Regions from separate parts of the Homo sapiens genome. Here all the other regions are linked to region 5. Evidence: fine-mapped expression QTL. A gene starts in region 5. Each other region holds a variant in brackets. All regions are shown on one strand. Distances are from middle to middle.

Region 1 (5,106 bases), 86 kb after region 5:
ACCCCCACCCAGACTTTCTAACACATAAACTTAAAGTCTTGCACCTTTTACGCAAAGTATCTCCTGCTACTTATTAAAAATTTCACAAATGGGGATAGCTTCACTTCTACGCAACAATAGAACTCTTAAAAATTTAGCTTTTGGCTTAAGTCGTGCATCTCCAAGCCCGCCACCAGTCAAGGTCTCAGTGCCAGCTATGCCACTGCAGCTGTCACTATGGCCCATTAGAACACTGCTAACTCGAAGATCAAGCAATTCTGGAGGTGCTTAGGGCTCTGGGGTGCTGAACGAAGGTGCTGGTAGCCTTAGAAAAGAACCAGAGAAACCTAATACTGCTTTGGTTTTTTTAAAGCATCACTTAGGAGTTGCTATCCCAGAAAATCCAGAAATAGAAGTGCTTCCCCTAGAATTGACAGAAATGAAAGATAAATATGAACGACCTCAGGTGAAGTGTGCCAGATAGGATTCTTCTCAGTGGAAAAGACACTAAAAAATGGTTTTGTATAACTTGAATAGTTTGTATATTATATAATCTTTTCTAGATAGATGCTACAGAATTCTTTTAATCTGTTACATTCACCTACCACACTTTATTATAAACACACTTAGAATCATCTATAAATACTCAATGTAAATTGTTTTGAGTCTTAAAGAAAAGAATCCAAAGTGGGGAAAAAAAAAAACAACACACAGCCATCTAATTCATTACCTTAAAAGATATTCTGTTTGTCTGATGAGGAACTATGGTGCTGGTTGTATTTTTGCCAATGAAGTTTAGCATGGAGGTAATCCTTGGTGTAGCTTAAAAAACGAGTACAGCCATTCTTTAAAATGAAGAAGGCACTGTTGTTTATATTTCCTGTAGGCAGCTGGAGAGATCTGTGTGACACAAGATGCTTCTGCATGGGTTCCCATGAATCTTCTGTTCTTGTTTATATAATGTGGAACAAATAACTCTTCTTTGCCACCACTGTGCCTTAGGTAACTGTGTGTGCCAGTCAGAAGTCTGACACCACGTTTTCCTTCTAGGCTATCATGCCCTATCTGATCATCTTTCCTTGCTTCACTCTGTGCTTTAGTGAAGCCTAGTTGCACATTGGCCTTTCTGTGCGGTTTTCAATTTGCTTAATGATAGCGGTTACCCCAATTGTAACTTATATAACTTTAAACAGAATCACACTATTCCCCGCCTTAGTTGAGCACAGAACAAAGGCAATATAAAATCTGGGGTTCACGCACAAGTTGGGATGAGAAGGGGAGTGAGCCATAATATCATGGAAAATTATACTTTCTAAGTATAATCGCAGTGATGTTTCTCTCAAAGTATTTTTCTAGCCTAGAATTCATTTTACCTTCATTATTCCTGTGAAGTAGGTAGGGCAAGTATGAGGGGAAGTTGGGTGCTGAATTTTTAGGTCAAAGACTGATAATAATACAAGGTATTTGCTCATTGTAGAACCTGGGGCACCAGATCAGTTAACTGCTCTGAGACTCACTTTCCTTGTTTGTTAAATGAGAAGAATATCCATGCTGCCTACCTCACAGGCTTGTGAGGGTCAAATGAGAATGTATGTGAAAGATCATTTCTTATTTGTATTTTTTTAAAATAGCTTTTAAGTGATCCCTCACTATCTGGTAGGAGACTGTAGGAGAGCTCAAATGTCAACTAACATCTATTAAAGTGAAAACATTATTAGCAAAAGTATGCATTAATATGTATGTATATGTATGTATACACACACACACAGTGATGCATTAACTAAGATAATGATAAGGGTATAGATTATGAATTTGTTCACCGAGTAACGGCAGTATTTAGAACATGTAAACATGTTTAGGTACAGTAAATAACTGCTTTAACAAGGGTTGACATCTCACTTAAAATCAATCATTGGGGCCAGGTGCGGTGGTTCACACCTGTAATCCCAGCACTTTGGGAGGCCAATGCAGGCGGATCACTTGAGGTCAGGAGTTTGAGACCAGCCTGGCCAATATGGTGAAACTCTGTCTCTACAAAAATTAGCTGGGTGTGGTGGCAGTCACCTGTAATCCCAGCTACTCAAGAGGCTGAGGCAGGAGAATCACTTGAACCCAGGAGGTGGAAGTAGCAGTGAGCCGAGATCACGCCACTGCACTCCAGCCTGGGCGGCAGAGTGAGGATCTGTCAAAAAAAATAAATAAATAAAAATAAAAATAAATCATTGGCTTTCACAAAACAGAAGTAGGGATTTCATGAACAATTTCCGAGTTATAATCATAACAAAGGCCACTGGCCATGTGTAGTCTTCTGTTGTATGTGTCACAACCATGGAACAATGACTTCCAACTTTGAAGTGAATTTCCTCTCACTCTTCTGCAGCAGAGGTTGAAAAAAAAAAACAAAACACAAGAATTGATCTTGGTTCTTCAGCTTTTGCTCTGCAAATTTCAGAATCAGCTAAATTCTGCAGCTAAGCTAACTAGACAGACTGTGTAGTTTAGCTGTAGTATGTACTTTTACACACTTCTACATCAACTCCATTGTACATACAATGTAGTATGTACCCCATTATTCATGATTTTACTTTCCAAGGTTTCAGTTACCCGTAGCCAACTGTGGTCTGAAAATAGATGAATATAGTACAGTAAGATATTTGTGTGTGTGAGAGAGACAGGGAGGGAGCGCACTGTATTAGTCTGTTTTCACACTGCTGATCAAGACAAACCTGAGACTGGGAAATTTACAAAAGAAAGAAGTTTATTGGACTTACAGTTCCACATGGCTGGGGAGGCCTCATAATCATGGTGGAAGGCAAGGAGGAGCAAGTCACGTCTTACATAGATGGCAGCAGGCAAAAAGCAAGAGGTTGTGCAGGGAACTCCCATTTTTAAAACCATCAGGACGAGGTACGGTGGCTCATACCCGTAATCTCAGTACTTTGGGAGGCTGAGGCAGGCGGACTGCCTGAGCTCAGGAGTTTGAGACCACCCCTGGACAACACGGCGAAAAC[C/T]CATCTCTACTAAAATACAAAAAATCAGCCAGGCATGGTGGCACATGCCTGTAATCCCAGCTACTCAGTAGGCTGAGGCAGGAGAATCACTTGAACCCAGGAGGCGGAAGTTGCAGTGAGCCAAGATTGCGCCACTGCACTCCAGCCTGGGTGACAGAGCGAGACTCCATCTCAAAAAATAAAAAATAAAAAAAAAATAAATCAGATCTCATGAGACTTATTCACTATCACGAGAACAGCACAGGAAAGACCTGCCCCCATGATTCAATTATCTCCCCCGGTGGTCCCTCCCACAACACGTGGGAATTATTGAGTTACAGGATGAGATTTGGGTGGGGACACAGAGCCAAACCATATGAAGCACAGTCACATATCTTTTATAATGGTATATTCTTATAATTGTTCTATGATTATTCTTGTTGATCTCTTACTGTGCCTAATTTATAAATTAAACCTTATGTTAGGTATAGTGTAGAGAAAAAAAAGTCTGATTCAGTGCCATCCTCAGCTTCAGGCATCCACTGAGGGTGCTGAAATATATCTTCTCTTGGAAAAGAAAGACTACTGTAATTATTGTTTCTTAATAACTAACCTCATGAAAATGAAAAGAAAGATCAATAGCATTTAGGGACCTTTTCAGTTAATAATCCCATAAACAATTATTTTTTAAACCTTCTAAATTTACAATAAATGAAAAAACTAAAAGATTAAAAGATACTCAAAAATGCTAAAATTCCTCAAAATAAAAATAATTTATCTTTTTCTTTGGAGACAGGGTCTCACTCTGTTGCCCAGGTTGGAGTGCAGTGGCATGATCTCAGCTCACTGCAACATCTGCCTCCTGGGCTCAGATGATCCTCCCACCTCAGCCTCCCAAGTAACTGGGACTACAGGTGCATGCCACAATGCCCAGCTAATTTTTGTATTTTCAGTAGAGACAGGGTTTTGCCATGTTGCCCGGGCTGGTCTCCAACTCCTGGGCTCAAGCGATCTGCCTGTCTTGGCCTCCCAAAGTGCTGGGATTACAAGCATGAGCCACTGCATCTAGCCAAAAGAAATTTTTATAATTAACAGGGGCTCTGAAACCAGTCACAGAATTAAGTGCATTTTTCTCAGCTGATGCTACACCAACCACTCAAATCATGAATGGATTTTCAGTTTTGTGTTCATGTTAAATGAGTGAAACTGCTTTTCTTATGGATACTTTTTTAAATGATGATGGGCTGTTACCTAAAGGGCTTCAAAGAACTGAAGTAGTATCTTAGCCTTCATCAAGTGATTATGACAAAAAATGATTATATTCATTGTTTCAAAGGTTCTACTCTTTAGTGTTTAGTTTGTGTTCCTGAACACTGAAGGAACCATTTGCTTTCAGAGGAGGAGCTCCTGTACTGTCTCAAATCAAATGAGAAAGAATACATTGGAATTACTGTTCACCAGGAGATATGAAACCTCCAAAGCGCACATTTATACCAAAGACCAAAGGAGAGGAGAGTAAAGCTCAGAATGTGTAGAAAGTAAACACTCATCAGGTGTGTACACTGTGGAGTTACTAGGAAATAATTCCTTTGAAACTGACCAACTTCATAAAGGAAACCAGAGAATCATATTATGTGCCAGAAGTCCATATAAACCCCATCTTTCTGATACACACAGAAGTTTCTTTTGAATGGACTTTACGTAGTCTAATCTTACCCTTAAGAGCTTTACATGAATACAGTTTCTATAACAGAAGAGACAAAATCCAGTAGAGAAAATGTAGGGTAAATAAAGAAAATAAGCTAGGAAAAGACACAGTAACATAACACAGGACCAACGACTTGCGGTTTATCAGTAAGATAACACAAATTTGAAATGCCAGAGAAGTTTGAAAAAATGAACAACTAATTGATTGTTAGAGAAGGCAGAATAGTGATTTCCTAACTGGAGAGGAGCAGAAGGGAAGCTGTTGAGATACTGGTAATGTTCTTTACCATCTAGTGGTGGTTACACGAATATATACACAGGTAAAAATGTTTAAGCTGTGTAACAAACTGTAGGGCACTCTATATATGTTACCATATGTATACCTCAATTTAAAATAAGAAAAAGAATTTTGAGGCTGGGTGCGGTGGCT
Region 2 (5,106 bases), 170 kb after region 5:
AGAGGTTGCAGTAAGCTGAGATGGTGCCACTGCACTCCAGCCTGGGCAACAGAGCAAGACCCCATCTCAAAAAAAAAAAAAACAGGTGGGTGAGGTGGCTCACACCTGTAATCCCAGCACTTTGGGAGGCTGAGGCGGGCAGATCACAAGGTCAGGAGTTTGAGACCAGCCTGGCCAACATGGTGAAACCCCATCTCTACTAAAAATACAAAAATTAGCTGGGCGTGGTAGTGCACGCCTGTAATCCCAGTAACTCAGGAGGCTGAGGCAGGAGAATTGCTTGAACCCAGGAGGTGGGGGTTGCAGTGAGCCGAGATCATGCCACTGCACTCCAGCCTGGCCAACACAGCAAGACTCCATCTCAAAAACAGAAAAAAAAAAAAAAAAAAAAGATAACTTGTCGGCCAGGTGCAGTGGCTCACTCCTGTAATCCCAACACCTTGGGAGGATTAGGCAGTAGGATCACATGAAACCAGTACTTTGAGACCAGCCTGGGCAACACGGTGAGACCCCATTTCTACAAAAATAATAATAATAATAATTTTTTAAAAAGATGGCCAGGTGTAGTGGCTCATGCCTCTAATCCCAATTCTTTGGTAGGCCGAGGTGGGCGGATTGCCTGAGCTCAGGATTTCGAAACCCGCCTGGACAACAAGGTGAAACCCCGTCTCTACTAAAATACAAAAAAAAAATTATTCACCGGGCAATGCAGTTTGCTCCTGTTGTCCCAGCTACTCAGGAGGCTGAGGGAGGAGAATTGCTTGAACCCGGGAGGCAGAGGTTGCAGTGAGCCAAGATCGCACCACTGCACTCCAGCCTGGGCGACAGAGCGAGACTCTGTCTCCAAAAAAAAAAGATAACTTGTGGAAAATTTTAGATTAGCTACTTCAAGTATAAAAATGATTTTCATTCTGTAAGTCCACAGACAGCAAAAAAAAAATTAAGGATTTTCAATCAACTAGTCACATGAAAATATACAACATGAGCCTGTATTCTTCCAGACCACAAATTAAGCCACACAATGACAGAAGTAAAGCTAACACAAGGCTTTCTAAAAAGCTTAAGAATATCTAATTGCTGGAATGCCTCATTTAATGATCAATAAGCAATGTGACATCAATTTTAAAGTATTAATACAGTACTTGCTTTGTTCACAAAAAATATAAACCATTAACATTCAGAAGACCAGATCAATAAGAAAATGTATATCATAAAACATAATTAACTTGTCAAATAATAAACCTTTATAATATTTACAGTTGATAATAATCTGGTTAATGAGACACAAACTTGCCATAACTGCCAATTACAAAATGTCACTTACAAAAATAAAAACTCCATAAAATAGCAAGAGAAAAATGTCCTTTTAAATGAAAGTTGATTACTTTAATGCTGTGATAAAAAATAGATTTTATGCCAACTCCAATCAAGGGGTAACAGCTGGCTAGAAAGGACCAAGTGGGCCCAAGGGCAGAGTAAGGACTCAGTATCTTGGTTGGGCCCTGGCTGCAAAAGGAGAGTAGCAGGCTGACTGAGGTCTATGTGCCTACACACTTCATAGACTAAGAAACAAAAAGCCATGGGCTATGTTCTCAAAATGTAAAATGTTATAAGAAAATACAACACACATCTTAAAAATCAACTATGTTTAGCTTTATTCCTAATAAACTTTGTGACTGAAGTACAAAATTAGAAATAAGAAAAAGTTTTTCAAATGCCAGGATGACCTTTTATTGTTCTTTTATTTTCCCTTCTCTCTTTAGTATTTCTCTCGGAAGTATTAAGATTTCAAAAACTGGGCAGAATGAATCACAGACAAATGCTTTCAGAAACTTAGATGGGGACATATATAATGTAAGATGGACTTAACTTACATGTAGAATAAAATGGACTTACATGTAAAAGCATTTAGAGTGTCTGGTATTATGTGTTAGCTCCTACTATTATTGTTAAATCATTATTGTAACTTATTACTAAGTCATAAGTTACTAAGTAAAAAGTTACAATAATAATTTTTAAAATTTTTTCCAGTCCTATGTGATCTGAAAAAATATATATATACCCAAATACCGTTTACTTAAACATGGGAAGGTAGAGGACAAGGAAAGAAGAAAAGCTAAGTAAAATGTATTTCCTTGTTCTAATAGGAGAAGAAGTCACGGAAAAATGTAAGGTTAAACACGTCAGTTTACAATTAGGAATATCTGCTTTACTTCCTTTATTGGAGTAACTAAAGGTTTCTTTTATTATTTTCCCCCTACAAATTAATTTAGCAAAAGTTAAACTCAAAATAGGCAAAGAATATAAACAGTTCACAGAAAAGGACACACATGTGGCCTTTTAAAAATATAAAAACATGCCGGGCACAGTGGCTCACGTCTGTAATCCCAGCACTTTGGGAGGCCGAGGCAGGCAGATCACGAGGTCAGGAGATTGAGACCATCCTGGCTAACACGGTGAAACCCCATCTCTACTAAAAACACAAAAAAATTAGCC[G/A]GGCATGGTGGCAGGCACCTGTAGTCCCAGCTACTCGGGAGGCTGAGGCAGGAGAATGGCGTGAACCTGGGAAGTGGAGCTTGCAGTGAGCTGAGATCGCGTCACTGGACTCCAGCCTGGGTGACAGAGCGGGACTCTGTCTCAAAAAAAAAAAAAAAAAAAAATGAAGCTCCTGTTTAGCCTTACTACCTTGGTTTTGAATAAGAATAGATAACTATGGCCCAGTGTGGTGGCTCACACCTGTAATCCCAGCACTTTGGGAGGCCGAGGCAGGCAGATCATGAGGTCAGGAGATCAAGACCATCCTGGTTAACACGGTGAAACCCCATCTCTACTAAAAAATAAATAAATGAATAAATAAATAAATAAATAAATAATTAGCCAGGCGTAGTGGCAGGCTCTTGTAGTCCCAGCTACTTGGGAGGCTGAGGCGGGAGAATGGCGTGAACCCAGGAGGTGTAGCTTACAGTGAGCTGAGATCGCGCCACTGGACTCCAGCCTGGGCAACAGAGTGAGACTCTGTCTCAAAAAAAAAAAAAAAATATATATATATATATATATATATGTATATTTATATATGTATATATGTATATTTATATATGTGTGTATATATATATTTATATATATATATAAAAAGATGTTCCACTTCAGTCATAAGAAATTTAAGATACAATCCCACCAAGGCACCATTTTTAATCTGTAAGATTAGTAAAGATTAAAAAATTTAATCCTAGGCCTGGTGCAGTGGCTCCCACCTGTAATCCCGGCACTTTGGGAGTCCGAGTTGGGTGGATCACCTGAGGTCAGGAGTTTGAGACCAGCCTGGCCAACATGGTGAAACCCTGTCTCTACTAAAAACACAAAAAATTAGCCGGGCATGGTGGTGCACACCTGTAATTCCAGCTACTCAGAAGGCTGAGGCATAAGAATTGCTTGAGCCCGGGAGGCAGAGGTTGCTATGAGCTCAGATCATGCCACTGCACTCCAGCCTAGGGACTGTCTTTTAAAAAAAAAAAAAAAAAAAAAGGGGCCTGGCGCATGGCTCCCTCCTAGCACTTTGGGAGGCCAAGGCAGGTGGATCATCTGAAGTCAGGAGTTCAAGACCAGCCTGGCCAACATAGTGAAATCCCACCTCTACTAAAAATACAAAAATTAGCCAGGCATGGTGGTGTGCGCCTGTAATCCCAGCTACTTGTGAGGCTGAGGCAGAAGAATCGCTTGAACCTGACAGGGGGAAGTTGCAGTGAGCTGAGATCACACCACTGCACTCTAGCCTGGGTGACAAAAGAAGACGTCTCAAAAAAAAAAAAAAAAAAAAACTTAATCCTATACTGGTAAAAATGGAAGGGAATGGGCACTCATTCATTGCTGGTAGGTGTAAATTGGAAGAATATCTGAAGCAATTAATTTGGTAATATCTGTCAAAATCACAATGCATATAACCATTTATTTTTTATAGAGATGGGGTCTTGCTATGTTGCCCAGGCTGCTGAAATGCAGTGGCTATTCACAGGTTCCATTGTAGTGTACAGAGCAAAACTCCGTCTCAGTAAATAAATAAAGACTCCATATCAATAAATAAATAAAGATAGATGCCATAGTCCTCCGAGTACTAAATGACATATATAGTCACACACCACATAACATTTAAGTCAACAGCAAACCACACATATGAACAACGGTCCCTTAAGGTTATAATGAAGCTGAAAAACTCCAACTGCCCAGTGACACTATAGCGGTAATATCATGGCACAAAGCATTACTCACATGTCTGTGATGATACTGGTATAAACAAACCTACTGTACTGCCCATCAAATAAATGTATAGCACATAGAATTATGTACAGTACTAACACTTGACATAGATAATGACTATGTTACTGATTTATGTATTTATTATACTATACTTTTTTTTGTTTTGACACAGAGTCTCGCTCTGTCACCCAGGCTGGAGTGCAGTAGCACGATGTTGGTCAGGCTGGTCTCAATGTCCTAACCTCAAGTGATCCGCCCACCTCGGCCTCCCAAAGGGCTGAGATTACAGGTGTGAGCCACTGCACCTGGCCAATATACTATATGTTTTATTGTTGTTTTAATTCTATTTAATTTTTTTTTTTTGAGACAGAGCCTTGCTCTGTTGCCAAGGCTGGAGTGCAGTGACATGATCTCGGCTCACTGCAACCACCACCTCCTGGGTTCAAGCGATTCTCCTGCCTCAGTCTCCCAAGTAGCTGCGATTACAGGCCCATGCCACCACACCCAGCTAACTTTTGTTATTTTTTAGTAGAGACAGTGTTTCACCATATTGGTCAGGCTGGTCTCGAACTCCTGACCTCAACTGATCCCCCCACCTCAGCCTCCCCAAGTGGTGGGATTACAGGCGTGAGCCACCGCACCTGGCCTATTGTTGTCTTAGAGTGTATTCTTTCTACTCATTAAGGAAAAAAGGTTAACTGTAAAACAGCCCCAGACAGGTCCTTCGGAAGGTATTCCAAAAGAAGGAATTGTTATCAAAGATGATAGCTCCGTGTGTGTTACTGTTCCTGAAGACCTTCCAGTGGGACAAGATGTGGACTGAGAAGACAGTGATATTGATGATCCTGACCCTGT
Region 3 (5,106 bases), 71 kb after region 5:
TTGGTAGCAATATGAAAAAAATTACCTGTTGCACATATCTGTCAGTAGTTTTCCACATGTAATAATATTCAATGATGCTAGTCAATGATTTCCAAGGAAGCTGAAAAAAAAAAAAATCAACCTATCATCTATGTTAACATATAATAAAATGAGATGAAAATAAGCTACTATAGAAAGTACTTTCCTTAAAAACCACCACTTTCTTTTTTTTTTTTTTTTTTTTTTTTTTTGAGATAGACTGTCACTTTGTTGCCCAGGCTGAAGTGCAGTGGCGCGATGTCAGCTCACAGCAACCTCCGCTTCCTGGGTTCAGGCAATTCTTCTGCCTAGCCTCCCAAGCAGCTGGGATTAGAAGCACATGCCACCATGCCCAGCTAATTTTTTGTATTTTTAGTAGAGACAAGGTTTCACCATGTTGGTTAGGCTGGTCTCGAACTCCTAACCTCAGGTGATCTGCCCGCCTCGGCCTCCCAAAGTGCTGAGATTACAGGTGCGAGCCGTCACACCTGGCCCTTAAAAACCACTTCTTTATTAAAATAATGAAGCAAATATCCACATGGAAGATTCATTCTAGAATATTTGAGAAATTTAAAATTAATCCTTAGCAAACGGTACCCCAAACAAGTCATATTCAGTATGGAATGTGAATACAACACATTCCATTTCTCATTCCGTTTATACATTTTACTAAAAATTATAAACATCATAACTGATAACATTTCTTTCTCTTTTTATTTAAGAGACAGGGTCACCCAGGCTGCAGTGCAGTGGCATGATCACAGCTCACTGCAGTCTCAACCTCCCAGGCTCTAGTGATCCTCCTGCCTCAGCCTCCTCAGCTGGGACTATAGGTGTGACACCATGCCCGGCTAATTCTTTTTTATTTTTTGTAGAGTTGGGGTCTCCCTATGTTGCCCAGGCTGGTCTTGAACAACTAGGTTCAAGGAATCCTTCCACCTCAGCCTCCCAAAGTCCTAGGATCACAGATGAGCCACCGTGACCAGCCCTGATAACATTTCATGACTTACTTGGGAAAGTTCTCAAGCTACAGGTGGGGCTGCAGCACTATTTTAGAAACGGCATTTAAACAGCTCTAGCCTGAGTTATTTCAGCTTCCAAAGATGGCAGCTATGACTGTGTGTCATCTGGTCTCTGCAAATCCTTGAAAGAGGCATTGAGGAAGACAGGAGAGACAGTCTCGTCTTGAATCGCTGATGCCACCCCTCTCCCATCCCCTGGCAGAGGCCTTGCAGTGCCAGAGTCTGTGCATATGGAGGAAGAACATCACAGTGACCAGGGGACTTTACATTGAACTTAGTGCTGCCCTGTGACAGCAGAGAATAAATCCATGCTGGGGTCAGCCAGTACCTGTGTAGGGAGGGAGAATCTGTACCAGACCTAGCCAGAGGGTAATCACCTATCCTATCGGTTGGAACTTGAGTTTCTCAACAAGCCTCATGACCATGGGCTGAAGTGCTCTGAGGACCTACGTAAACTTAGAAGACAGCCTAGGTACACAAGGACTTCAACTCCTAAACAACTCCTAGTGCTGGGCTGGACTCAGAGCCAGAGGACTTCGGGTGGCATGTGACCTAGGGAGACACCCAGGGTGGCTAAAGGAGTGATTGCACCACCCCTCTCCCAAACCTAGGCAGTACAGCTCAGGGGCAAAAATGTCTCCTTCCTTCTGCTTAAGGGATGGAAAGTGAAGAGTAAAGAGGACTTTGTCTTGCATCTTGGATACCTGCTCAGCCACAGTAGGACAGGGCACCAGGCAGAGTCGTGAGGCCCCCATTCCAGGCCCTAGCTCCTATACACATTTCTAGACACCATCTGGACAAAACAGAACCTGCTGCCTTAAAGGAAGGACCCAGTCCCTGCAAGATTCATCAGCTGCTGACTAAAGAGCCCATGGGCCCCGAGTAACCAGCAGCAATGCCTGGGTAGTAGTACACCATGGGCCTTGGGCTCTGAGATGTGCTGACTACAGTGTGACCCAGCACATTCCCAAGCACATTCCCAGCTATAGGTGGCTATGGTGAAAGGCTTCTTCTGTTTAAAAAGATGGAAAAGTAAAGGGATGTTGTTGTTTTGCACCTTAGTTACTGCTCAGCCACAGTGGGGTGGAGGAATAAGCAGGCTTTTGGGGTCCCCAGGTTCAGGCCTCAGTTCCTGAACAGAATTTCTGGACCTGCCTTGGGCCAGAGGGGAGCCCAGTGCCCTGAAGGGTGATCCCAGGCCGGACAGCATTCCCCACCAGCTGACTAAAATGAAGAGCCCATGGGCTTTAAGTGTACATTGGAGGTGGCCTGGCAGAACTACCCCCACCCCCAATAGTGGCTGGGTGTTGGTGTCCACAGGGAGGCCCCTCTGCCTGTGGAAAGGGGAAGGAAAAGCAGGAAGGATTTTATATTGTGGTTTGAGTCTCAGCTTAGTCACAGCAGAATAGAACATCAGGCAAATTTCTAAGGTTTTTGACTCCAATCCCTGGTTCTCAGACAGCATCTCTGGACTCACCAGGGCCTGGAGGAACTCACTACCCTGAAGGGAAGGACACAAACCTGTCTCACTTTGCCACCTGCTGATTGTGGAGCCCTAGGGCCTTGAGTGAGCATAGGTGGTAGCAAGTGAGCAGTTACGACAGGCATGACCCAGCACAGCCCCAGTGGTGGTAGCCACAAGAGTGCTTGTGTCACCACACCCCAGTTCCAGGTAGCTCAAGGGACGGGGTGTGGGGAGAGAAGGAAGGAGGGGGAGGGGAAGAGGGAGAGGGAGAG[GGAGAGA/A]CACTGTTTCTTTGAGAGAAAGGGAAAAGAACAAGAGTCTGTCTGGTAATCCAGAGAATTCCAGATCTAATCTGAGACTACCAAGGGAGTACTTTGAGTCTGCAAAAACCACAGTGATATTGGGCTTGAGGCCCAAGTCCTTTAGAAAGCCTTTTCAAGAAGGACGGACACAAACAAGCCCAGACTGTGAAGACTACAGTAAATACCTAACTCTTCAATGCTCAGACACTAACGAACATCTACAAGCATCATCCAGGAAAATATGACCTCACCAAACAAAGTAAGTAAGTCAGGAGGGACCAATGCTGGACAAACAGAGACATGTGACCTTTCAGACAGAGAATTCAAAATAGCTGGCTGGGCACAGTGGCTCATGCCTGTAATCCCAGCGCTTTGGGAGGCTGTGGCAGGAGGATCACGTAAGGCCAGGAGTTCGAGACTAGCCTGGCCAACGTGGTGAAACCCTGTATCTACTAAAAATACTAAAAAATTAGCCAGGCATAGTGATGCATGTCTGTAATTGCAGCTACTTGGGAGGCTGAGGCACGAGAATTGCTTGAACCCGGGAGGTGGAGGTTACAGTGAGCCGAGATCACGCCATTGCACTCCAGCCTGGGTGACGGAACAAGACTCTGTCTCAAAAGAAAAAAAAAAAAAAAAAGAATTCAAGATAGCTGTTTTGAGGAAACTCAAAGAAATTCAAGATGACAGACAGAAGGAATTCAGAATTCTGTCAGATAAATTTAACAGAGACTGAAATAAAAAGAATCAAGCAGAAATTCTAGAGTTGAAAATGCAATTAACATGCTGAAAAAATGCATCAGAGTCACTTAATAGTGGAACTAATTAAGCAGAAGGAAGAATTATTGAGCCTGAAGACAGGCTATTTGAAAAACACCCAGTCAGAGGAGAGAAAAAAGCAAAGAATAAAACCAATGAAGCCTGCTTATAGGATCTAGAAAATAGCCTTGAAAGAGCAAATCTAAGAGTTATTGGCCTTAAAGAAGAGGTAGAGAAAGAGGGGCAGGAAGATTATTCAAAGGGATAATATTAGGGAATTTCCCAAACCTGGAGAAAAATATTAACATCGATATTCAATAAGGTTATAATCAAACTCCCAAAGGTCAAAGATAAAGAAAGAACCTCAAAAGCAACGAGAGCAAAAACAAATAACTTATAATGGAGTTCCAATACGTTTGGCAGCAGACTTCTCAATGGAAACCTTACAGGCCAGGAGAGAGTGGCACGACATATTTAAAGTGCTGAAGGAAAAGACCTTTACCCAAGAATAGTATATCCAGTGAAAATGTCCTTCAAACGTGATGGAGAAATAAAGACTTGCTGACAAACAAAAGCTGAAGGATTTCATCAACACTAGACCTGTCCAATAAGAAGTGCTAAAGGGAGTTCTTTAATCAGAAAAAAATAGATGTTGGTGAGCAAGAGGAAATCATCTGAAGGTACAAAACCTGCTGGTAATAGTAAGTACACAGAAGAACACATTGAGTATTATAACACTGTAATTGTGGTATGTAAACTACACTTGTCTTAAGCACAAAGCCTAAATGATGAACTAATAAAAAAAAATAACTACAACTTTCCAAAACATAGTACAATAAGACACAGAATCAACAAAAAGTTAAAAAGGGGAATGAAGTTAAAATGCAGTTTTCTAATTATTAAGTTTTAGGGGGGGATGTGTGTGTGTGTGTGTACGATGTTCTAAGAGGTGATTACTACATATTGCATGCCTGTATCAAAGTATTTCATAGGCCGCGGTGTGGTGGCTCACGCCTGTAATCCTAGCACTTTGGGAGGCTGAGGCAGGCAGATCACAAGGTCAGGAGATTGAGCCCATCCTGGCCAACATGGTGAAACCCCGTCTCTATTAAAAATACAAAAATTAGCTGGGGCTGGTGGCATGCGCCTGTAATCTCAACACTTTGGGAGGCCGAGGCGGGCGGATTGCTTGAGGCCAGGAGTTCAAGACCAGCCTGGCCAACATAGTGAAACCCCATTTCTACTGAAAATAAGAAAATTAGCTGGGCATGGTGGTGTGTACCTGTAGTCCCAGCTACTTGGGAGGCTGAGGCAGGAGAATCACTTGAACCTGGGAGGTGGAGGTTGCAGTAAGCAGAGATCGCGCCACTGCACTCTAGCTTGGGCAACAGAGTGAGACTTTGTCTCAATAAATAAATAAATAAATAAATAAATAAATAAATAAAATAAAAATACAAAAATTAGCTGGGGTTGGTGGCGTGTGCCTGTAGTCCCAGCTACTCGGGAGGCTGAGGCAGAAGTATCACTTGAACCTGGCAGGCGG
Region 4 (5,106 bases), 49 kb after region 5:
GTCTTAACGTAAGATTGAAATGACATGGAAGATAAATGACAGCTGCTAAAGGCAACAAACTTCGCCATCTCTGACCTAGATGGGCCATACTTGGCCATCCCTTCCCCACTGTGAAGGCTTAACCTATCTTGGCAAAACTCAATTGTTAGGCTAGGGATTTGCAAGAGTAATAATGGGCCATTTGGTTTTATCACTGGTTTTCTAACCCTGATCAAGCTATGTCATTCATTGGTGCTGAGATTTAAAAGGCTACCTGTGTGCAAACAGAGTATTTCATCCAACAGTCAGAACAGTAAGAAACAGTGAGGATGGGTATTAGCTAATCAGTTTTCATGATGCTCATTATACCCTATTGTAAGACATTTTCAGACAAAAATAAAGCATACAATACAAACATTCTGTGTTTTAATTAGCTGTCATTTGGAAGAGTAGATGTGCAAGACAAAGGGACAAAACAAAACGTGTATTGAAACACTTTAATACTGTCATAAATATTAACAGAATCACTTTAACCTGTATGATTCTACTATGTTTATGCCTTTTTCCCACCTTCAAATATTTGACAAAAATGTCCTACAGGTTTTCTGATTTACTGAAGAATTTTTCCTTTTGCAAACTGAGACATTTCTGGGCATACACACAGGGAATTTCCTTTGATACCCACAGGAATTATTTGCTCTACTAGAGTTAAAATGTGCAAGTCTGGAACTTCAAATAATTTTAAATAAAAGTTAGGTTTTTATGAGTTCTAGCCCTTTCACCAAAAAAAAAAAAAAAAAAAAAAAAACTCTTTTCTGAAAATTATTAAACCGAAGATGGCAAAAGAGCATTTTTTAAAAATTCTCATTGTGGTTAAAAAAAACACAATGAGATACTATTTCACACTAGTCAGAATTGCTATCATTAAGTCAAAAAATAACAGATGCTGGCAGAGAAAACAGGTTGAAGAGAAAAAGAAATGCTATACACGGTTGATGGGAATACAAATTAGTTCAACCATGTGGAAAACAGTGTGGTGATTCCTCAAAGAGCTAGAAACAGAACTATCACCCAACAATCCCACTACTGGATATATACCCAAAGGAATATAAATCATTCTATCATAAAGACACATGCATGTATATGTTCATTGCAACACTATTCACAATAGTAAAGACATGGAATCAACCTAAATATCCACCAATGATAGACTGAATAAAGAAAATGTGGTACATGTACACCATGAAACACTATGCAGCCAGAAGAAAAGAACGATATCATGTCCTTTGCAGGAACATGGATGGAGCTGGAGGCCACTATCCTTAGCAAACTAATACAGTAACAGAAAACCAAATACTGCATGTTCTCACTTATGAGTCGGAGCTAAATGATGAGAACTCATGGATGCACAGAGGGGAGCAACAGACACTGGGGCCTATTGGAGGGTGGAGGGTGAGAGGAGGGACAGTATCAGGAAGAATAACTAATGGGTACTAGGCTTAATAATTGGATGATGAAATAATCTGTACAACAAACCCCCTTGACACAAGTTTACCTATATAACAAACCTGCACATGTACCCCTGAACTTTTTTAAAAGTTAAAAAATAAGTTTAAAAACATTAAAATAGACAAAGCACATACTGCAGAGAGCCTAAAACAATCAGGAATCTGAAAATATAGCACCCAGATATTGGCTAATTATTATGCAACCACTGACAAGTATAAATGATCCAATTTCTTTTCTTCCTATTCAGGTGATTCCCAGGAGAAAAAATAAATTACTAAGCTATGAAGCTTTTCACCTATTGTTGAATAATAGTGAAGATACAGGCAGAAATATAATAAACATCTTGTGGAAGAGTAATCTAAATAAACACTAGGAAGCAACCCAAAGCCTGTAAGGATCAAACGCCTGCCAAACCATTGAGTTAACACTACATAATTTCTTGCTAATATTACTGATTCACCTGAAATTCAAGTTATATTTGGGATAAGGACAAGATAAATTTTTCTTTCTTCTCTATTAATAAAGCTGGAATGAGTCATCTTGGTTATTTCCTCAATGTCTTGACAAAGGCAATCACCATATTACTAGTAATAAGATTTGCCTTTTATTCCAGTCTAGATGACCCAAAGGAAAACTGCCAATATGGCAGCAATTGATAGACATTGATGGCTATCATCAACAAATCCATCAAAGAGGTCACCAACACAATACCCAAAGATACTTCATTTTAAACTATATTTGCTTCTAATTTCTCATTAAAAATAGGAGGATTAATTATATGATGTTCTAAGTGACAATTTGCATTACAGAGTACCTCTGAATGGGAGATCAAAGCTTTTTAGAAAGAAGCATATTTCACTAATCCTCATAATATTTTATAGAAAGTTCCAGCTACTCAGGAGGAGGAGGAGGGAGGATCCCTTGAGTTAGAGGCTATAGTGAGCCATGATCACGCTACTGCACTCCAGGCTGGGTGACAGAGCAAGACCCTGTCTCAAAAAAAAAAAAAAAAAAAAAAAAGTAGTTGGTGGCAAGAATTATGTCTCAACTGTGAAAAAATTAGAGTGAAAAGATTCTAGGACTGCCTTAGTCACTCTTTAACATAAGAAAAGTTGTTGCCATTCAGTAGGAAAAATACAGTTGGCCCTGAGGAAATAGCCATAGGTGGGATTGTCTGGCCCACACTTGAGTTGGTTAGAAGGAATGCTGGGCTGCACTCAATGCCAGGCCAACAATGCTGCCACTTGTCAGACAGTCCTTGCTCCCAAATTACTCACCTAACTCCACTTCAACAGGGAGATATGCATTTGAAGTCACAGATAATGAAAGCAATCTGAGAAATCCCCAAAGAACCCAGAAGGAATCAAAACCTGTCCAGAGAGAACATCT[A/G]TATCTCACTCAAGTCACTTGACTGGTCACAAGGAACATGTCTTTAGTTTCCTAGAGCAGGGGTCCCCAAGCCCCAGGCCTCAGACCAGTACTAGTGGTAGCAAGTTAGGAACTGGGCCGGACAGCAGGTGAGCATTACCGCCTGAGCTCCGCCTCCTGTCAGGTCAGTGGCAGCATTAGATTCTCATAGGAGCGCTAACCCTATTGTGAACCGCTATGCGAGGGATCTAGATTGCCTGCTCCTTATGAGCCTCTAACTAATGCCTGATGATCTGAGGTGGAACAGTTTCATCCCAAAACCATCACGGCCCACACCACCCAGTTCATGAAAAAATTGTCTTCCATGAAACCTGTCCCTGGTACCAAAAAGGTTGGGGACCACTGTCCTAGAGGATGATCTATATTTCCTTGGGGTTAACCTAGAAATACACTATTACTTTTGTTGAAACTCATGGTTATTTTTCTACAGTGTTTTGGAAATACTGGGGGCAGTGAGATGGAAACCCTGCAATATACACACAGAATTCACAAAAACATCCCACATGTGCATTCAAGAACCCTGTCAAGATAAAACTATCAGTAGAGTTTGCTTCTAGAACTGGAAAGGTATTTTTAAAGAAGCCACAAAACTCATGATTTTTTTTTTATAAATTCAACTATTAATATGTCTTTTTTTAAAAAAAAATCTGCTTGGCAAATACACCATAAAGTCAAAGAGAAAACGGGGGAACTATTTGTATCACATATCACAGATTAAGAGATAACTTTGTTAAAATATAAAAAGTTCCCACAAGTCAGTAAGACTGCCAATAGAAAACAGGCCACGGGCAAAAACAGTTGACAGAAAAGGAGATAAATGGTTTTCAAATATAGGCAAAGATTTCTATCTCATTCAAAATGAGAAATGCAAGCTAATATAACTTGTCATCTGTCAATTAGTCACGGGTTTCAAAGATGGGTAACACTGCCAGCAAAGTTCTAGAGAAATAGGAATTGTCTAGATGTTGTGAGTGGGACTGTGAATTGCAGTTTTTCTACGGGCAATAAAACTACACCAAAATTCAAAATGTATGCTCCTTGGCCCCAACTTTAACTTTTAGGGATCTATCTTGTAAGGAACATTCCCATTTTATACATCAGTATGAAATGATATCTGCATAAGGATATTTGTTGCAACATTATTTATGATAGAAAATGACTGAAAATAACTTAAAAGCTTTTAATAGGAAACTAGTTATGGTACAACAAAATAGATTATGCAGCTGACACAAAAAGGAGGCAGTTTTCAATACAGTGGCACGGTATGTTAAGTAAAAAGCAGCAAGGGACAGAGCAATATAGACAGTATGTTAATATCATATAGAAACAAACAATAAGCCTACTTAGACTCTTATAGATGCACAGAATATTTTTTGGATACTTAAGGCAACGATGATAATGGTTATCATTGAATGGGGTAAATCAGGAATGAGGAACGTGATGAGATTTGTAACCACTTTTGTACCTTTAGAAAAATTTTTCAGTATCCATTCAAAACCAAATTTTTATTAAACTCCCTCGGCTTATACCACAAGGCACATACTAAAAAAAAAATTTAAACTCTCTACCAAAAATACCAAAAGAAGCAAACCAACTATTCTCTCATGATTCAAGCTTAAAATTTCAGAAAAGCTTATACTCATTAACTTTAGCTGAGAAATCTCTAGAAAAATCTCATAAAACACATTTTTCATCAAGTGGGGTCTTGAGATACTTCCAAAGCCAAATTAGCTTCTTCAAACAGAAAAATAGCTTCAGGTTCCTCCCAAATAACCTCATACAGGGGAATACTGTGGCCCATTCAAGTCTGGTATGTTATCAGCCCAAACCACTTCACTCTCTCTGCAAGCCACCAAGGTGCCAGGCAAATCATCCGGATTTACTTTTCCAGGCACTTTAGCTTCATCTTTGGAATGTTGCTAGTAAACCTACTTCTATTTAACCTCAGTCTGTGAGGATCCTGAGTCTCAAGTGCTGATAATCCTGTGTGCATCAGGTGTTTGGATGATTCTGTAGATCTTTGGTGAAGTCTCTGAAATAACGTCTGATGACAATAACAGAGGAACGTCATTCTCCCATACATAGCTTTTTTACTAGGGGGAGGGACCTCAGGGGGGAAAAAAGAAAAGACGGCTAACTTTTTTTTTTTAATAAAATATGGAACACTTCACTAATTTGTGTTGTCATCCT
Region 5 (5,106 bases):
CACCCAGAGCTAACCACTGTTAATACCTAAAGACTATGATCAGCCTGGAGAGGGGCATGAAGTTGTACCAGGAGCTCAGCAGTGTTGGTGGGGGTGTCTGGCCTTGTGTCCCCTTCCCTCCCCTGTCATGCACAGGTGCCCTGTTCAAAGACTCCAGAGGGACCCCTGAGCCTGCTATGGGTGTCTAGGGATGCTGGAGGCCTCAGAGGCACCAGTGGGAAGAGACAAGAATGTGGAACCTGCAGCGGGCGCAGCTCAGTTTCCTGGGACTTCCGTGAGAAGTCAATGAGGGCATGCACATGAGAGTGACAGATCTGGACAGAACAGGTCCCTGCGTGGACTCAAAGCTTCCTCTAGAAAAGAACACTTGACCCCTGTCTCCCTCATCCCCAGCCCAGTGGCTCACTGCCTTCCTACACTCCACTGGGAGCAGAGAAAGACCTGCCTTTGCTGAAAAGGCTACTGGCCCTAAGAGACATCGGGACCTTCAACCTCCTCGTCACCCCTAAGGGCTTTCCTCTCCTGCAAGCAAAGAAAAAACACCATCAGGCTCCTTCAAACACAAATGGTCCAGGATAGGCACAGGCAGAGGCTCCACGCGGCTCGTTCCTGGCCTGTAGCAATGCACTGCTCCGTGCAGGACCTGAGAAGAAGACATAGAATGTTCCAGGGAGGACCCAGGTCAGAATACCGATGGCCGTGAAGAGAAGAGTTTACTCTCATATGCAGGGCAAGCTTAATCCAGAGAGAAAGTCATGAAAATTAGATCTGTTTTTGTGAACACTCGCTCTGTCCCAAGGAATCCCCTAGAAGTTTGTTTTTTTTTTTTTTTTTTTTTTTGAGACGGAGTCTCACTCTGTTGCCCAGGCTGGAGTGCAGTGGCGCGATCTCAGCTCACTGCAAGCTCCGCCTCCCAGGTTCACGCCATTCTCCTGCCTCAGCCTCCCGAGTAGCTGGGACTACAGGCACCTGCCACCACGCCCGGCTACTTTTTTTGTATTTTTAGTAGAGACGGGGTTTCACCGTGTTAGCCAGGATGGTCTCGATCTCCTGACCTCGTGATCTGCCCGCCTCGGCCTCCCAAAGTGCTGGGATTACAGGCTTAAGCCACTGTGCCTGGCCTATAAGTTTTTACATAAATTATCTCATTTTATCCTCACAACTCTCCAAGAAGGTGGTAGTGCCTGATTTTACAGATCAGGCTCAGAGAGGTTTGGAAATAGGGCAGCTCTGTTTCCAACCCAGGCCTGTCTGCATATGGAGCTTAGGCTGGGCCTCACCACCCTGCTTCTCCCAGGGATGTTTGCCCTCAGCCTTGACCAAATGGGAGCCCAGGGCAGCCAAGAGAGGCCAGGGGCCACTGTGCCTGGGACACAGAGGCCAGGCCACACATGGCAGACTGCTGACCCCAGCCAGTTGGCAGTGATGGGGTCAGGCCCTGGAGCCTGGAACCAGCACCTCCCTTGGCCCTGCTGTCCCGGGTTATCAGGAGCCTGAAGCCCTCATCTCCACCCACAGGACCAGCCCATGGGCTCATGAGAATACCTCACCATGGGACAGCTGGACTTGTACCTTGTCTGGAGCTAGCCCCAGCCTCCCACTCCCTATTCCGCAGTGAATGCTAATGGGGGCAAGGAGTGGAGTGGACAAGGAGCCATGGGGAGACACAGACAGGGAAAAATCAGGATTGTTCTATTTGCGGGAGAAGCCCCCAGCTCCCCGTGCCATGGCAGTAGAAATTTGGCAGGGGCGTCCCCGTCCATGGGGCCTACTTCACCGTGTACCCGGACTTGGGACCATCACAGACTTCGGAACCATCAGGAACCTGGGAGCAACTGAAAGCTGAACTACAGTGGGCTTTCAGACACACAGCAGGCTGGCGGAGCACAAATAGGACTGGTTCCCTCCAGGCCACCAGCAGGGCGGTGGAGGTCTTCACTGACTCCCTGCCTACCTCTCAGGACAATGTCCTTTTGGCTCCACAGTCCCTGAAGCCAGAGCTGGTGGGGGCAGGGAGGCAGCCACCAGCCTCTATATGTAGTGGAGGAGGGGGTGTCCAGGGAGGGCTGCATGATCCTGAGAGCCCCCACCTCACCCGGCTGGACTATCCTCCCACTTCAGGGTTTCTCTGGGCTTCCATCTTGCCCCTGCTGAGCCCTGCTTCCTCCTCTACCAGCAGCACAACCCCCAGGCTGGGCTCAGAGACCTCATGTGGTGGGATCACTCAGTACCCCGAGGCGGAGGGAAGGAGGGAGGGCTGCAGGGTTCCCCTTGGCCTGCAAACAGGAACACAGGGTGTTTCTCAGTGGCTGCGAGAATGCTGATGAAAACCCCAGGATGTTGTGTCACCGTGGTGGCCAGCTGATAGTGCCAATCATCCCACTTTGCCCTGAGCACTCCTGCAGGGGTAGAAGACTCCAGAACCTTCTCTCAGGCCCATGGCCCAAGCAGCCCATGGAACTTCATAACCTGAGCTCTCCATCTCCCTCTCTCTCCTCCTCTGTTCTCCCTCCCTCCTTCTCTCCCTCACCCTCCTCTGCTCCCTCTGCCTTTACCACTGTGGGGGGGTCCTCTGGAGGGCCCTGCCACCCCACCTCTTCCTCGCTGGTGTCTGCCTTCCTGGCACCAATCCTGGCCCTGGAGTTTGTCCTGGGCCTGGTGGGGAACAGTTTGGCCCTCTTCATCTTCTGCATCCACACGCGGCCCTGGACCTCCAACACGGTGTTCCTGGTCAGCCTGGTGGCCGCTGACTTCCTCCTGATCAGCAACCTGCCCCTCCGCGTGGACTACTACCTCCTCCATGAGACCTGGCGCTTTGGGGCTGCTGCCTGCAAAGTCAACCTCTTCATGCTGTCCACCAACCGCACGGCCAGCGTTGTCTTCCTCACAGCCATCGCACTCAACCGCTACCTGAAGGTGGTGCAGCCCCACCACGTGCTGAGCCGTGCTTCCGTGGGGGCAGCTGCCCGGGTGGCCGGGGGACTCTGGGTGGGCATCCTGCTCCTCAACGGGCACCTGCTCCTGAGCACCTTCTCCGGCCCCTCCTGCCTCAGCTACAGGGTGGGCACGAAGCCCTCGGCCTCGCTCCGCTGGCACCAGGCACTGTACCTGCTGGAGTTCTTCCTGCCACTGGCGCTCATCCTCTTTGCTATTGTGAGCATTGGGCTCACCATCCGGAACCGTGGTCTGGGCGGGCAGGCAGGCCCGCAGAGGGCCATGCGTGTGCTGGCCATGGTGGTGGCCGTCTACACCATCTGCTTCTTGCCCAGCATCATCTTTGGCATGGCTTCCATGGTGGCTTTCTGGCTGTCCGCCTGCCGATCCCTGGACCTCTGCACACAGCTCTTCCATGGCTCCCTGGCCTTCACCTACCTCAACAGTGTCCTGGACCCCGTGCTCTACTGCTTCTCTAGCCCCAACTTCCTCCACCAGAGCCGGGCCTTGCTGGGCCTCACGCGGGGCCGGCAGGGCCCAGTGAGCGACGAGAGCTCCTACCAACCCTCCAGGCAGTGGCGCTACCGGGAGGCCTCTAGGAAGGCGGAGGCCATAGGGAAGCTGAAAGTGCAGGGCGAGGTCTCTCTGGAAAAGGAAGGCTCCTCCCAGGGCTGAGGGCCAGCTGCAGGGCTGCAGCGCTGTGGGGGTAAGGGCTGCCGCGCTCTGGCCTGGAGGGACAAGGCCAGCACACGGTGCCTCAACCAACTGGACAAGGGATGGCGGCAGACCAGGGGCCAGGCCAAAGCACTGGCAGGACTCAGGTGGGTGGCAGGGAGAGAAACCCACCTAGGCCTCTCAGTGTGTCCAGGATGGCATTCCCAGAATGCAGGGGAGAGCAGGATGCCGGGTGGAGGAGACAGGCAAGGTGCCGTTGGCACACCAGCTCAGACAGGGGCCTGCGCAGCTGCAGGGGACAGACGCCAATCACTGTCACAGCAGAGTCACCTTAGAAATTGGACAGCTGCATGTTCTGTGCTCTCCAGTTTGTCCCTTCCAATATTAATAAACTTCCCTTTTAAATATATTTATTTGCAAGACCAAATATCTGTCTTTAATTCTAACCTGGGACTGTCAGTAGGCGTCAAAGTGAGCGCCCCAAGGTGAAGGGAAACTTGGGAGAGAGTGGGGAAGCCATCCCACAGCCCCATCCCAGGGGGCACTGTCCTTCCCAGAACTTCTGGGAAGCCCCGGCATGTCCTGAAAGGCAGAACTGCTTTCTTGGGTGAGGCCTCAGGCAGGCCACCAGGGCTCCAGGCCCTCGGGTACAGAGTTTGATGCTGGGGACCTAACATCCCTCCCCAGTTCCCTCAATCCACTTAGCCCAGCCCTCTCATATCATGGACAGGACGCACCCCAGCTACTAAAGTCGTCAGGAATAGAAGTGAAAGCCCAGAAGTGTCACACACAGACCAGGAGGGTGGCATCAAGGGTCCATGTGGATGCTGGGGAGGGAGCGAGAGAAAAAGTATCAGGCAGAGGGAGGTGGGCCCGGGAAGGATGAGCGGGTGAGTACCAGACCCCGCCTCCACCGTGTATCTCCAGCCCACTTCCCTGTTCTGAAAATCTACCTGCTGCACTCAGAAACCTACCAAGGTACTGGGGTGCCACCTGGGCCCCCCCCAGGGTTGCTCTTCTGTCTCTCGGCTCCCCATGGGCCCCTCTTGCCCCCTCAACTCCTACTGCTCCCTTTTACTCCCTGGAGCCACGCCTAGGGGGTCCCTGCTTCTCCACGCCCTCTGTCACCACAGGGAAGGGAGTCCAACCCTGGGCGGGGCCACCTCAGCCTGAGTCAGGTCTTTTAGGAAAGGCCTGCACACTCCTGGAGGATGGGGACTGAGCAGCTCCTTCGGGTGGATCCCCACCTGGGGCGCCAACACTTACCGCCAGCTCAACACCAGGCACCTTTCCTCTGGTACCATCTCTGCCCCTGAATGCGCCCACCTGGGCTCAGGGCAGCTCCACGGGCCATTTCCTCAATCTCCTCTTCCCTGGACCCTTCTCCTACCAACTCCTCCCTCAAGTCCTCGCACCTCTCCCAGCACCTGCCCTCACTCCTTCATGACCTGATGGAAGGGAAATGGACAGATACTCCCATGGTTTGCAGGCATGTCT

Which allele goes with the higher level. Positions count from the first base shown, and alleles are read on the strand shown. Sizes are in standard deviations (SD) of each study's normalised expression. Not every link is listed here.
With allele A in place of G in region 2, the expression in prostate of the gene that starts at base 2,382 in region 5 is higher (small effect, 0.35 SD a copy in GTEx).
In carriers of allele A in region 4, the expression in whole blood of the gene that starts at base 2,382 in region 5 tends to be lower than with G alone (small effect, 0.31 SD a copy in GTEx).

The links. PIP is the estimated chance that this variant, and not a neighbour inherited with it, causes the effect. A credible set is the group of variants that fine-mapping cannot tell apart.
Region 1: its variant is the best candidate, but not a certain one, in a credible set for the expression of OXER1 in whole blood (TOPMed, PIP 0.65).
Region 2: its variant is the best candidate, but not a certain one, in a credible set for the expression of OXER1 in prostate (GTEx, PIP 0.60).
Region 3: its variant is the best candidate, but not a certain one, in a credible set for the expression of OXER1 in whole blood (TOPMed, PIP 0.78).
Region 4: its variant is the best candidate, but not a certain one, in a credible set for the expression of OXER1 in whole blood (GTEx, PIP 0.56).

Annotation. Positions count from the first base shown.
Region 1 is chr2:42,675,418-42,680,523 of GRCh38, reverse strand. All of the region lies in intron 8 of MTA3 (metastasis associated 1 family member 3), which reads right to left. Among named protein-coding and RNA genes, the nearest start is that of OXER1, 86 kb to the left of the region's middle. The variant C/T (reference allele first, on the strand shown) is at 2,991.
Region 2 is chr2:42,592,661-42,597,766 of GRCh38, reverse strand. The region is part of intron 3 of MTA3 (metastasis associated 1 family member 3); the gene reads right to left. All of the region lies in intron 2 of LOC105374555 (a long non-coding RNA gene), which reads left to right. Among named protein-coding and RNA genes, the nearest start is that of MTA3, 27 kb to the right of the region's middle. The variant G/A (reference allele first, on the strand shown) is at 2,497.
Region 3 is chr2:42,690,759-42,695,864 of GRCh38, reverse strand. It overlaps MTA3 (metastasis associated 1 family member 3), which reads right to left. Exons shown (of 17, transcript NM_001330442.2): 10 at 26-100. Among named protein-coding and RNA genes, the nearest start is that of OXER1, 71 kb to the left of the region's middle. The variant GGAGAGA/A (reference allele first, on the strand shown) is at 2,778.
Region 4 is chr2:42,712,809-42,717,914 of GRCh38, reverse strand. All of the region lies in intron 14 of MTA3 (metastasis associated 1 family member 3), which reads right to left. It also overlaps the pseudogene RNU6-137P. Among named protein-coding and RNA genes, the nearest start is that of OXER1, 49 kb to the left of the region's middle. The variant A/G (reference allele first, on the strand shown) is at 2,878.
Region 5 is chr2:42,761,411-42,766,516 of GRCh38, reverse strand. It overlaps OXER1 (oxoeicosanoid receptor 1), which reads left to right and starts at 2,382. Exons shown (of 1, transcript NM_148962.5): 1 at 2,382-4,018. The coding sequence starts at 2,455. The coding sequence ends at 3,609.